Linked DNA regions of Homo sapiens: region 2 is linked to region 1. A link means that fine-mapping ties the variant in region 1 to the expression of a gene that starts in the linked region. Tissue or cell type: whole blood. Region 1 holds a variant in brackets; the other region holds the start of a gene. All regions are shown on one strand. Distances are between the middles of the regions.

Region 1 (5,616 bases):
AAGTGACCACCTGCTGTACGAGGTTTCGGGAGGGCACTCGTGCGGGACGGTGACAGAGCTGAGCCTTTCCAGAGATCTGGGTGGGTACCCCAGGGGTATGGCAGGGAGGCCCTTGGGGTTTTTTGGGGTGAGTTGAGTCCCAGCGGGGGGAACATTTCACATGTGTTCCTCCAGCACCATCTGCCTCCTCATCTAATTTTAGCCTTCCCGGGCTTGGGAGGGAGGGCCGGGGGTGGAAGGCTGGCTCAGATGGGTCTGGGGGTGGAGGCAGCCCTCCCGGCCCAGCTGGGGCTATGGGGCAGGACCTGGATGGGCAGAGAACGTAGCAGCAGAGGAGTGAGGTTGCTGGCCAGCGGGGCAGTGCCAAGGCCCTGGGGCCCAGCTGAACCGTGTCCCTTCAACCTTTGGAGCTTTCCAGAGGGCAGGGCCAGAGGGAGCAGAGTCACCCGCCAATGCCCTTCATACAGGGATGTCGGGGTGGGCAGGGGGCACATCCCAGAGTGAGGGGCCGGGCCTACTGGCCTCTTCTCTTGGCCTCTCACCTTATCCCGCCCTTGCCCCCGGCCTGGGCTGGTCACGGGGCCAGTAATCGAGTAATCGGTGAGGGTGGGCGGGCAGGCTTGGGGCACTAATAGTGGCGTGTGCAGGATCCTAGGGCCGGCATAGGGCCGAGCCGGGTAATTAGTTGTTTTTAAATAAACGTCAGCGGGCATGCTTTAATTAAGCCTTCTTCCCAGTGAGAGCCTCGAAGATGTAATCACAGAGAGAGAGAGAGAGAGAGAGAGCGAGAGAGAGACAGAGAGAGGAGCATCGGCTCACCAAGAAGGCCTGTCCTGGTCCCAGGGGCCACAGCGGGATGGCCCCTACCAACCTGGCCCAGCCGACTTGTTGGAGGTAAGAGGATGGTCCAGGGGCCTCTTGGTGGCACTGGGGTGTGTGTTACCCCTGAGTCTTCCACTGGCCTGCTCCAGCTGAGGTCTGGGGCGGGGCAGGGGGCTGTAATTCTTTACTGAGTGATCAGGAGGGTTTTCAACATTTTATCTGCCCCCCCCAGAAGGGTTTGGGAGCCGCGGCCCCTCCCCGGCCCCAGCAGCACCTACCTTGGGTGGCCGAGGTGACCAGGACGGCGGTGACACACAGATTCCAGAGCACTGCGGCTAGGCGGGCCATGGTGGCAGCCGGGTGCGTGTCCGGAGCTCTCAGTGGCCTGTGCGGGGGGCTTTGCCCCACATCACCTGGCAGGCACCACGGCCTGGACCACCAGCCTGGGGGAGGACAGGGAGACTGAGGTGGGGATAGGGCCTCCAGGCCGCTCCCCTCTCCTCCTGCTGGTGGCTGAGTAGCTCTGAGAGGCTGAGGTCCAGCACGTCCCTCGAGCCAGCCCTATCTGTAGGGCCCCCTCCGGGGTCTGCAGCTCACACCACACCCCCCACCCTTACACCCAGCAGCCAGACCCAGCTATCTGGGCACCTCTGGGCAAAGAGACTGCCAACTCTTCCCCACTGGAACCTCCTGGGACAGCTCACGGGGAGATCCCAGGCAGGCCTTGGACCCTCTGGAAGCCTCTTCCCCATGCCCCTGTCCTGACCCTGCCCACTCATCTCCCCTACTCGCATCCTCACCATGAGCAAGGAGGTAATGAGTGTCCTCCCAAGTGAGGGACTCATTGCAACCCAACTTGCAGCCTCCCCGTCTTGGGCAGAAATCCAAGCCCCCGCCCCCAGCCCCCTGCTTCCTGTCTCTCAAGCTCTGGTGGCTAATTAGAATCCAGCTGGCGCCACAGATCGGGAACCAGGGACGCCCGAGTCCCCTCTTTCCTCTCTGGGGGACCTTCAGGGT[A/G]AGCTGGAGACAGGCAGGCGGGGTGGGAGGCGGACACTGCCTCCCCCTCTGGGGGGGCCAGGGGAGATGGGGGAGGGGTGAGAATTGTGTGCTGTCCCCTGCCATCCTCCCCACCTGCTCTGTCCCCAGGCACAGCGGCTCAGTTTTTTTTTTCATTATTATTATTTTTTTAAATTTTAGAAACCAGGTCTCACTCTGTTGCCCAGGCTGGAGTGCAATGATATAATCACAGCTCACTGCAGCCTCAACCTCCCAGACTCAAGGAATCCTCCCACCTCAGCCTCCCAAGTAGCTGAAATCACAGGCTTGCACCACTACCACCAGCTAATTTTTATTTTATTTATTTATTTATTTATTTATTTATTTATTTATTTATTTTTTTTTCTGAGACGGAGTCGTGCTCTGTCCCCCAGGCTGGAGTGCAGTGGCACAGACTCAGCTCACTGCAAGCTCCGCCTCCTGGGTTCACGCCATTCTCCTGCCTCAGCCTCCCGAGTAGCTGGGACTACAGGCACCCACCAACACGCCCGGCTAATTTTTTGTATTTTTAGTCGAGATGGGGTTTCACCGTGTTAGCCAGGATGGTCTCTATCTCCTGACCTCGTGATCCGCCCGTCTCGGCCTCCCAAAGTGCTGGGATTACAGGCGTGAGCCACAGCGCCCAGCACCACCAGCTAATTTTTAAATTTGCTGCAGAGAGGAGGTCTTGCTATGTTGCCCAGACTGATCTCAAACTCCTGGGCTTAAGGGATCTTCCTGCCTGGGCCCCCCAAAACTTTGGGATTACAGGAGTGAGCCACTGTGCCCAGTCCAGGACTCGGTTCTAACTGGTTTCTTCCTGCCTTATGGCTGCTCCTTCTCACCTCTCTCCCCGCCTCAGTCTCCCCAAATCCTCTCAGGCTTGCACGCTCAAATGTCTGTCCTCAGCTCTTTGCTTTATCTACACCCTGGTTCTCCAGGTGTGGTCCCAGCACACTGGCATCAGCCTTGCCAGGAACTTGGTAGAAACACACATTCTCTCTCTCTCTTTCTTTTTTTAAGAGACAGGGTCTTGCTCTGTTGCCCAGGCTGGAGTACAGTGGCACAATGACGGCTCACTGCAACCTCCAGATCCTGGGTTCAAGTGATGCTCCTACTTCAGCCTTTCGAGTAGCTGGGACCACAGGCTCTCGCCACCACGCCCAGCTAATTTTAAAATGTCTTATAGAGACAGGATCTTGCTATGTTGCCCAAGCTGGTCTTGAACTCCTGGCCTCAAATGATCCTCCCACCTCAGTCTCCCAAAGTGCTGGGATTACAGGCGTGAGCCACTGTGCTGGCCAGAAACACACATTCTCTGAGGCAGGCCCTGAAGCGTGGGAACCCCTGCTCTGTCATATCCAGCTGTCATCCCAGCCTGTCCCATCTCAGGCTGTCCTGGGCTCTCAGTACCATCATTGAGCCAGCACTTTCAAATCTCTTATGTCCAGCCTGGAATCTCTCATCAGAGCCCCCACTACCATTTCCCTGCTGAAAACCAAAACCCTTGTAATTGGCCCAGTTAGCTCCCTGACCCCATTTCTGCTCCAGCCACTCCTGCTATTCCTGGACCACAGCAGGCCTTGCCCCAGGGCCTTTGCACCTGTTGCTTCCTCCACCTGTAGCTTCTGCCAACCCACTGTCCACATGGCTGGCTCCTTCAGGCCTCTGCTCAGATAGAACTATTCACCTGGTGTATAGAATGTCCTCTTCATGGGGCAGGGATCATTGAACTGTTTTGCTCATGGTGGCCGTATCCCCAACTTTTATTTACTTTTATTTTTTTAGAGATAGGGTCTTGCTCTGTCACTCAGGCTGGAGTGCAGTGGTGAAATCATGGCTCACTGCAGCCTCCACCTCCCAGGCTCAAGTGATCCTCCCGCCTCGGCCTCCCTAGTAGCTGAGACCACAGGTATGCACCATCACATCCAGCTAATTTATTTTATTTTGCAAAGATGAGGTCTTGCTATGTTGCCCAGGCTGAACATGAACTTCTGGCCTCAAGAGATCCTCCTGCCTCAACATCCCAAAGTGCTGGGATTACTGCGTGAGGCCATCACCACTGTTGTCTTCATATCCTCAACTTTTAGAATAGGCCTGGCACGTGGCAATGAATTAATTATTTGTTGAATGAATCTCAGATCCCAAAGCTGAGACTCTGCCTTGATTCCTCACCTTCCCTGTCATCCCCCTCACGGAAGCCATCAGCAACTCCTGTGGGCTCTGCCTCTGAAGTACCTCGCGACCTGCCCACTTCTGGCTCTAAGCACAGCACCCAGGCCCATGCACCATCCTATGTCACCTGTATGTTGTCCTGGCCTCCTTGCCCGCCTCCCAATCCGCCCTTCACTCAGAGCTAAGGGACCACATGATGATGTTGATCCGAACATTAACTGACCCCCTGGTCTCTGCTGGGGTCTCAGTTCCTCACTAGAGCCCAGAGGCTGTGGGTGAACTGGTGCCACCAAGCTCTCCAAGCCCCATTCTGTCCTCCCTCCTGTTCCTGAAACATTCAACATTCCAGTTCCAGTCCCCAAGCAGGATCCCTGCATGTCGGCTGCGGCTGCTCATTGTTCAGGGCTCAGCCGCAAGGTCACCCCAGCAGAGTGACCTACCCTGACCCCCTGCAAACAAAACAGTCCTCGCCTGCTGCCCTCACCCGCCATCCTTTTCCCTGTTTTTAATTCACAGCTCTCAAGTGAGCACCTGAAATTACCTTTTTATCAACACGAGCTTCTTGAGAGAGGCCCTTACAAATCAGCACACGGCTGGGCACGGTGGCCCGTGCCTGTAATCCCAGCACTTTGGGAAGCCGAGGCGGGTGGATCACCAGAGGTGGGAGTTCGAGACCAGCCTGGCCAACATGGTGAAACCCCATCTCTACTAAAAATACCAAAAAATTAGCCGGGCGTGGTGGCGGGTGCCTGTAATCCCAGCTACTCGGGAGGCTGAGGCACGAGAACTGGTTGAACCTGAGAGGTAGAGGTTGCAGTGAGCTGAGATTGTGCCATTGCACTCCAGCCTGGGCAACAGAGCCAGACTGTCTCAAAAATAAATAAATAAAACAAATCGGCACAGGCCCTCAATAAATAAAGATCCCCACAGGGCAGGACACCTGGTCCAGACCCCAGTCTCCTCACGTGGGAAATGGGAAGATAATATCTGCAAGACAGCCCTGAACACCCCCTCTCCAGCCCTGTAGCTCTCTGCCCGCTTCCCCTCTCATGCCCACTCCCGATACCAGCTCCCTCTCCACTGCCCCAGCTTCTTCAGTAAATCCCCCCCAGCTACCTCCAGCCCCCAACCGCGTCTCCCCCCACATCCCTGACTAGACACGGCCAGTGTCACTTTCAGATGATTTTACAGCGTGTTACCCCGCCGCCGCCACCAGCCCCTATCCGCATCTCCCCCACATCTGTGACTAGACATGGCCGGTGTCACTTTCAAATCATTTTCCAGCATGTTACCTTGGGAATGGGGAGTGGCTTCCTTATTTCAACTTCCTCATTTCTCCCCCAACTGCCCAGCCACAGAAAGGTTCAGGGGAGGCAGTGTCCCCAAGCTGAGGATACTCCCCTCCCAGGGTCTCCAAGCGCTTTCTTTCCCACTGCAACAGGCATCCGAGCAGAGGAACTGGTTAGAGGGAGTAAAAATGGCTGGCTTGGTACGGTGACTCGTGCCTGTGATCCCAGTGCTTTGGGAGGCTAAGGTGGGTGGATCACTTGAGCCCAGGAGTTTGCAAGGCTGCAGTAAGCTATG
Region 2 (5,958 bases), 49 kb before region 1:
AGAGCAAGACTTCATCTCCAAAAAAACAAAAAAAGGACCAGCAGGTTGAATTTAGCCCTTCCGGCTCTAATTCTATAAATAAGTTAGTAAAGTCACAGGGCAGGGGCTTCCTAGGAGTAGAAGTACCAGATAATGACCGCACAACCATTTTTTTTTTTTTTTTTTTTTTTTGAGACGGAGTCTCGCTCTGTCGCCCAGGCTGGAGTGCAGTGGCGCGATCTCGGCTCACTGCAAGCTCCGCCTCCCGGGTTCACGCCATTCTCCTGCCTCAGCCTCCCGCGTAGCTGGGACTACAGGCGCCCGCCACCACGCCCGGCTAATTTTTTGTGTTTTTTAGTAGAGACGGGGTTTCACCGTGTTAGCCAGGATGGTCTCGATCTCCTGACCTCGTGATCCGCCCGCCTCGGCCTCCCAAAGTGCTGGGATTACAGGCGTGAGCCACCGCGCTCGGCCACAACCATTTTTAAATGCAAGGAACACAAACAGGCTGATTGAAACCTGATCTCCTGCCGTCGGGGAGCTGGGAATCCCTCAACCTATTACTTCCTTCCATCTCCTCCTGGCTTTTAAATTAAATCTTATTCCACAGCGTCATTCTACACTTTATTTATTTATTTACCCGCTGCCTTGTTCCAGAAAGGATTTAACTCGGCATATTCTATAGTTAGCCACAAGTAGACTCCTTAATTTAAAAAGGAGCGAGAGAGACCGGGGAGAGACAGACCCACTGGCCTACCCAAAGCACATCCACATCTCACTCTATCAGCTCCAAGCTAGTCCAGGCGACCAGCTTTGAGGGCAAAACACCTACCTGCCCCCGAGAGGCACTAGTTAGCATATCCTGGCTTCACAGGCCCCCAGATCACCACCTCCTCGGCTGCTGCCTTTTCTCTTTCAACCACCAAGTAGAAAAATGGCCTAATGGAGTACTTCTTCCTGAAAGCAGGACTTGCCTGTTAGTGGTGCCAAGGCTCCCTAGGTGACCTTAGATTTTGGATTTGTACAGGCCTTGACTTGAAAGGTCTTTTGCGTTTTGTGGCTCCTGTCTTCTCATCTGTGAGATGAGAGCCATGCCCACCTTTAAGTCACACAGATTAATAAGTACATCTACGGAAGCACCTTGGAAAAGATGTACAGGAGGCTGTGACCTCCAAGCTCCAGCCGACTGTTTGAAGCTGGAGCCCGTCACAGCTCAGCCCAATCCACCCACCCCCCAGACTAGGTCAGACCATCAAAAGCAACGGGAGCTTGGCACTGATTATCCAGCTATATTAAAAAAAAAAAAGAAGAAGACGGGGCACGGTGGCTCACGCCTGTAATCCCAGCACTTTGGGAGGCCAAGGCGGGTGGATCACTTGAGGTCAGGAGTTCGAGACCAACCTGGCTAACATGGTGAAACGCTGCCTCCACTAAAAATACTAAAATTAGCTGGGCGTGGTGACAGGCGCCTGTAGTCCCAGCTACTCGGGAGGCTGAGGCAGAAGAATCGCTTGAACTCGGGAGGTGGAGGTTGCAGTGAGCCGAGATCGTGCCATTGCACTCCAGCCTGGGCAACAGAGTGAGACTGTCTCAAAAAAAAAAAAAAAAAAAAGAAGAGGAAGAAGAAGAAAGAAAAAGTGACAGAAAAATTGCTGCAGTAACTCAGCTGGAAACGGGTGGGCAAACCTGGAGAACTAGCTAATGCCTGCCTGGCTATGCCACCCCTCGGATCTCAGTGTGTTTATCCAAGCCCACAGAGAAAGGTGGGGAAGGGGAGCTGGGGAGACAAAGTTCCCCTCAAAGACGGTAGCATCCTTTCCCAGGGAGAGCTCAAGCATAGGGGGGTTGGGCCCCAACGAAGGAGAGAAACCAGGTTCCAGGGTATGTGCATTGGGGCAGAAAAGCGGCAGCAACTGGTGGGCGTGGGGTTATTGAAATATTGGCAGGTTGGGGAGGGGACTGGTGGGACACAAATGGGAAGATGGGGTTGAGAGAGGTCCTGAAAAGGGGTTGAGGGGTTTTCACAGGAAAAAAAGGTTACTGGAGGGGAGGGTCTTCACGGCAAGGAGAGAGGAGCTTGGGTGAGAGGTCTCCATAGGGAAAATAGGAGATGGCTGGGATTTCCCCCGGGGAAAATGGGAAGGGGCTGGATATTGGGGGTCTCCAGAGGGAAAATGGGAGGTGTGAGTATCTCACTACAGGAAAGAGGGAATAAGTGGGCAAAAATGGGTGGGTGGTTGAAGCGGGGGTCTTGCCACAGGGAAACCACGGTGGCTGAAGATCTCCGTGGGTTAAGAAATGGAGGCCGAGAAGGTCTCCCCATGAAAACGGGTACCTAGGAAGAGCTCCAGAGAAAAAAGATGGATGAGGTTCCCCACGCGGGAAATGGGGCTTGGAGGGGGTTAATCTCTATGGGGAGGTCGGGGCGGGCAGTGGGGGAAGAGGCCACTGGGAGGTCCGAGTTAGCTGGCGGGGGGTCTCCACCCGGGAGGTCAAGGCGGGCAGTGGGGGAGGAGGTCACGGGGAGGTCCGTGTTGGCTGGTGGCGGGGGGTCTCCACCGGGAGATCCGGTTGACTGGCGGGCTGGGGGAGATCGGGGTTGGCGGAAGGGGGACGAGGGGTTTCATGGGGGAGATCAAGTTGGCCATGGGAGCGGTTCTCTGAGGGGAGGCCGGGGTCGGCCCGGGGGTGGGGGTCCCCGCACAGGCCCAGCCTCACCGTCCGCCAGGGCTTCACTGCACTCGAAGCTGATCTCGAACCGGAAGGGGCTGTGGAAAGGGCTCGGGTTCTCCAGGACCGCCACGTTCAGCACCGACACCTTGGCCATCGCCTCGCCTCGCCGCGCCGCAGCAGGGGCAGGGGCTGTGGCTGTGGCGGAGGCCGCGCCTGGGTCCGGTGGGGTCAGTGGGGTAGGGCTGACCAGGTCCACTCCCGCCTCTTCTCTCCGAGAACTGAAGTGCGCACCTAGTCCGCGCGCCGCCTTCAAATAGCCGGCCTCCGCCCTCTGGCCAATCACCGCCAACGCTCCCTGGCGGCGCGCGCACCCCCTCAGCCAGTCCTGGAGCGCCGATCGGCGCGCGCCCAGACTCCTCGGACCAATCAGCGGAGCTCCCTCTCCGCAGCGTGTGAGGAGGGCGAAACTATCTCCAAGCTTCTTAGCGTGTCCGCTGGAAACCAATCCCCAGCGTCTCCGACTTGGATGTCAACGGCGGGAATGGACGGAGTCACAGCGCCGGCCTCCTTCTGGCCAATCCTGAGGGTTCCCGCACCGGCGTGGCCCGCCCCTCGCCTCGCTTTTCCGGGAGATGCATCCCGCAGCGCGCAGCGCCGCCACCCGCCGAGCGGTGGCGCGCGGCGCTCGCTAAAGAAGGCGGGAAGGGCGGTGCTCGCACCCGAAGTGATTGGCAGGAGGGAGTGGGGCGGAGATAAAGAGGGTTTTCTGAGAGTTTATTGGCTGGATTGGTAATGGTGGCGGGAGCAGAAGGAGGCTCAGCTGGGGATTCGCTGGAGAGAAGCGGAAGTCGAGCGCCACCGCGGTGTTGGCGAGTGTGAAGAGAGAGGAGGAGCGTTTGCGGCCTCAGCGTCTGTCAACAGGTGAGCGTTTCCTGGAGCTTTTCTGAGTGGCTCCTGACCCTTGAGGTCCAGCGGCGCGGGAGTCCGTTGTGAACGTTGCGAACGTTCGGAGTGGCGGTCACGAGGCGCGCTCAGACCTCGGGAATCCGGCCGGGTTCGGATCCCGCTTTCGCCCCCGAGGGGTTCGGATCCCGCTCTCGCCCCCGAGGGGTTCGGATCCCGCTCTCGCCCCCGAGGGGTTCGGATCCCGCTCTCGCCCCCGAGGGGTTTGGATCCCTCTCTCGCCCCCTTGAGGGCTCTTGGGAGGTTTCAAGCGGACGGTACTGAAAATGGGAGTTCCAGTTCGGGGGCAGACCAGTGTTCAGAGTCCGGGCTCTGCTACTCAGCGCCCGAGGCAGCGCCTCCCCATTCAACGGGGGCCGTGGCAATTCCCTGACATGATTCATGACCACATAATACATCCGGAAACTTCTCTCCACCGCCTCCCGTCTGGGCCGTCGCCCCCGGCCTGGGAGACTCCAGGTCTCAGAGTCTCTGCCCCCACGGGCGATCAGTGCTGCCCAGTGGAAAAATAATGCCAGCCGCGCACCAAAATTAGGTGTAAAATTAACATTTTTTGGAAGCCACTTTTTTTTTTTTGAGATGGAATCTCGCGCTGTCACTCAGGCTGGAGTGCAATGGCGCGATCTCGGCTCACTGCAACCTCTACCTCCCGGGTTCAAGCGATTCTCCTGCCTCAGCCTCCTGAGTAGCTGGGATTACAGGTGCCCACCACCACAACCAGCTAATTTTTTTTCTGTATTTTCAGTAGAGACGGGGTTTCACCATGTTGGCCAGGCTGGTCTCGAACTCCTGACCTCAAGTGATCCGCCCGCCTCGGCCTTCCAGAGTGCTGGGATTACAGGCGTGAGCCACTGTGCCCGGCCATATCTTTTTTTATTATTATTTGTAATTTTAGAGGCTGGTCATGGAGGATTTCTTGAGGCCAGGAGTTCAAGATCAGCCTGGGCAACATAACAAGACCTCATATCTACAAAAAATAAAAGAATAAGCCAGGTGTGGTAGTGCATACCTGTAGTGTCTGCTACTCCTGAAGCTGAGGCAGGAGGATCTCTTGAGCCCAGAATGCTCCAGCCACTGCACTCCAGCCTGAGTGTCAGAGTGAGACCCTGTCTCTAAAAATTAAAATTAAATTTTAAAAAAGAAAGTTCAGTTTAGCTGTCTTGATAGCCGCAGTTGAGTGCTCCTGAGCCCGTGTGACAAGTGGCTCCTGTATTACTGGACAGCGAAGGTCAGAAACACATTTGACCAGGTCACTTCTCCGGATGAGAGCATTGTCTTTGAAACTCTATGCTTTGTCTCCTGTTAACCACCCAGCTCCAACTTCAAACCAGGCTAAGTAACCCTCTTTTTGTTAAAATTCTGACAAGCCACTCCCAGTGCAAAGCCTCTGCCCAGAACCTCTTCTCCTAGGCTCTTGGCATGGCTTATGCCTTCTTGTCATTCAAGTCTCTGTTCAAATGTCCTCTCCCCAGAGAGGCCTTTCTAAGGGTGCTCTGGACAGTGTTCAAACTCACAGGCCGTACGCCTGAACAGCACTGAGCCAAGGCACTAGTATTTCTTACCCAGTCACCTCTGTGGGCTCACTAGGACTCACTCACTGTGCTAGTATGTTTTCCTTTTCCTTTTCTTTTTAAACAATCCAGTTCCTGTGGGATTTTTTTTTTTTAATAGAGGTCTGTTGCCCAGGCTGGAGTGCAAGTGGCATAATCGTGGCTCACTATAACCTGGAACTCTTGGGCTCAAGTGATCCTCCCACCTCAGCCTCCCGAGTGGCTGGGATCACCAGTGCGTGCCACCATGCCTAATTTGTTTTATTTTATTTTATTTTTTTTTTGAGAGGGAGTCTTGCTCTGTCACTCAGGCTGGAATGCAGTGGCGCAATCTCAGCTCACTGCAACCTCCTGCTTCCAGCTTCAAGCGATTCTCCCACCTCAGCCTCCCGAGTAGCTGGGACTACAGGCACACGCTACCTTACCCAGCTAATTTTTGTATTTTTAGTAAAGATGGGGTTTCACTATGTTGGCCAGGCTGGTCTCAAACTCCTGACCTCAGGTGATCCACTCACCTCGGCCGCCCAAAGTGCTGAGATTACAGGCATGAGCCACCGTGCCCTGCCTCTTATACTTTTTAAATTTTTTGTAGAGACAGGGTCTCGCTGTTGCCCAGGCTGGTCTTGAAACTCCTGGCCTCAAGCAGTCCACCTATCTTGTCCTTAAGTGCTGGGATTACAGCGCCTAGCCCATTTTTGGTATCTACATCTCACATTAAGTTAAGAAAAATTCTTTTTAGCTGTTAAAAAATCGAAAGCTTTGTTTTTATTCTTTTGAAATTATTTGGCTTCAA

What was found. PIP is the estimated chance that this variant, and not a neighbour inherited with it, causes the effect.
Region 2: it holds the start of ADGRL1-AS1, and the variant in region 1 is fine-mapped to the expression of ADGRL1-AS1 in whole blood (TOPMed, PIP above 0.99). The same link has a PIP of 0.9 or more in gastroesophageal junction, lung, subcutaneous fat, sun-exposed skin and tibial nerve.

Annotation. Positions count from the first base shown.
Region 1 is chr19:14,182,433-14,188,048 of GRCh38, forward strand. It overlaps ADGRL1 (adhesion G protein-coupled receptor L1), which reads right to left. Exons shown (of 23, transcript NM_014921.5): 2 at 1,101-1,265. The coding sequence starts at 1,170. Among named protein-coding and RNA genes, the nearest start is that of ADGRL1, 21 kb to the right of the region's middle. The variant A/G (reference allele first, on the strand shown) is at 1,840.
Region 2 is chr19:14,133,651-14,139,608 of GRCh38, forward strand. ADGRL1-AS1 (ADGRL1 antisense RNA 1) reads left to right here and starts at 3,502. Exons shown (of 3, transcript NR_045214.1): 1 at 3,502-3,573. It overlaps ASF1B (anti-silencing function 1B histone chaperone), which reads right to left and starts at 2,939. Exons shown (of 4, transcript NM_018154.3): 1 at 2,698-2,939. The coding sequence starts at 2,806. RefSeq lists a silencer at 2,705-2,754 and enhancers at 3,085-3,224, 3,302-3,928, 3,425-3,584.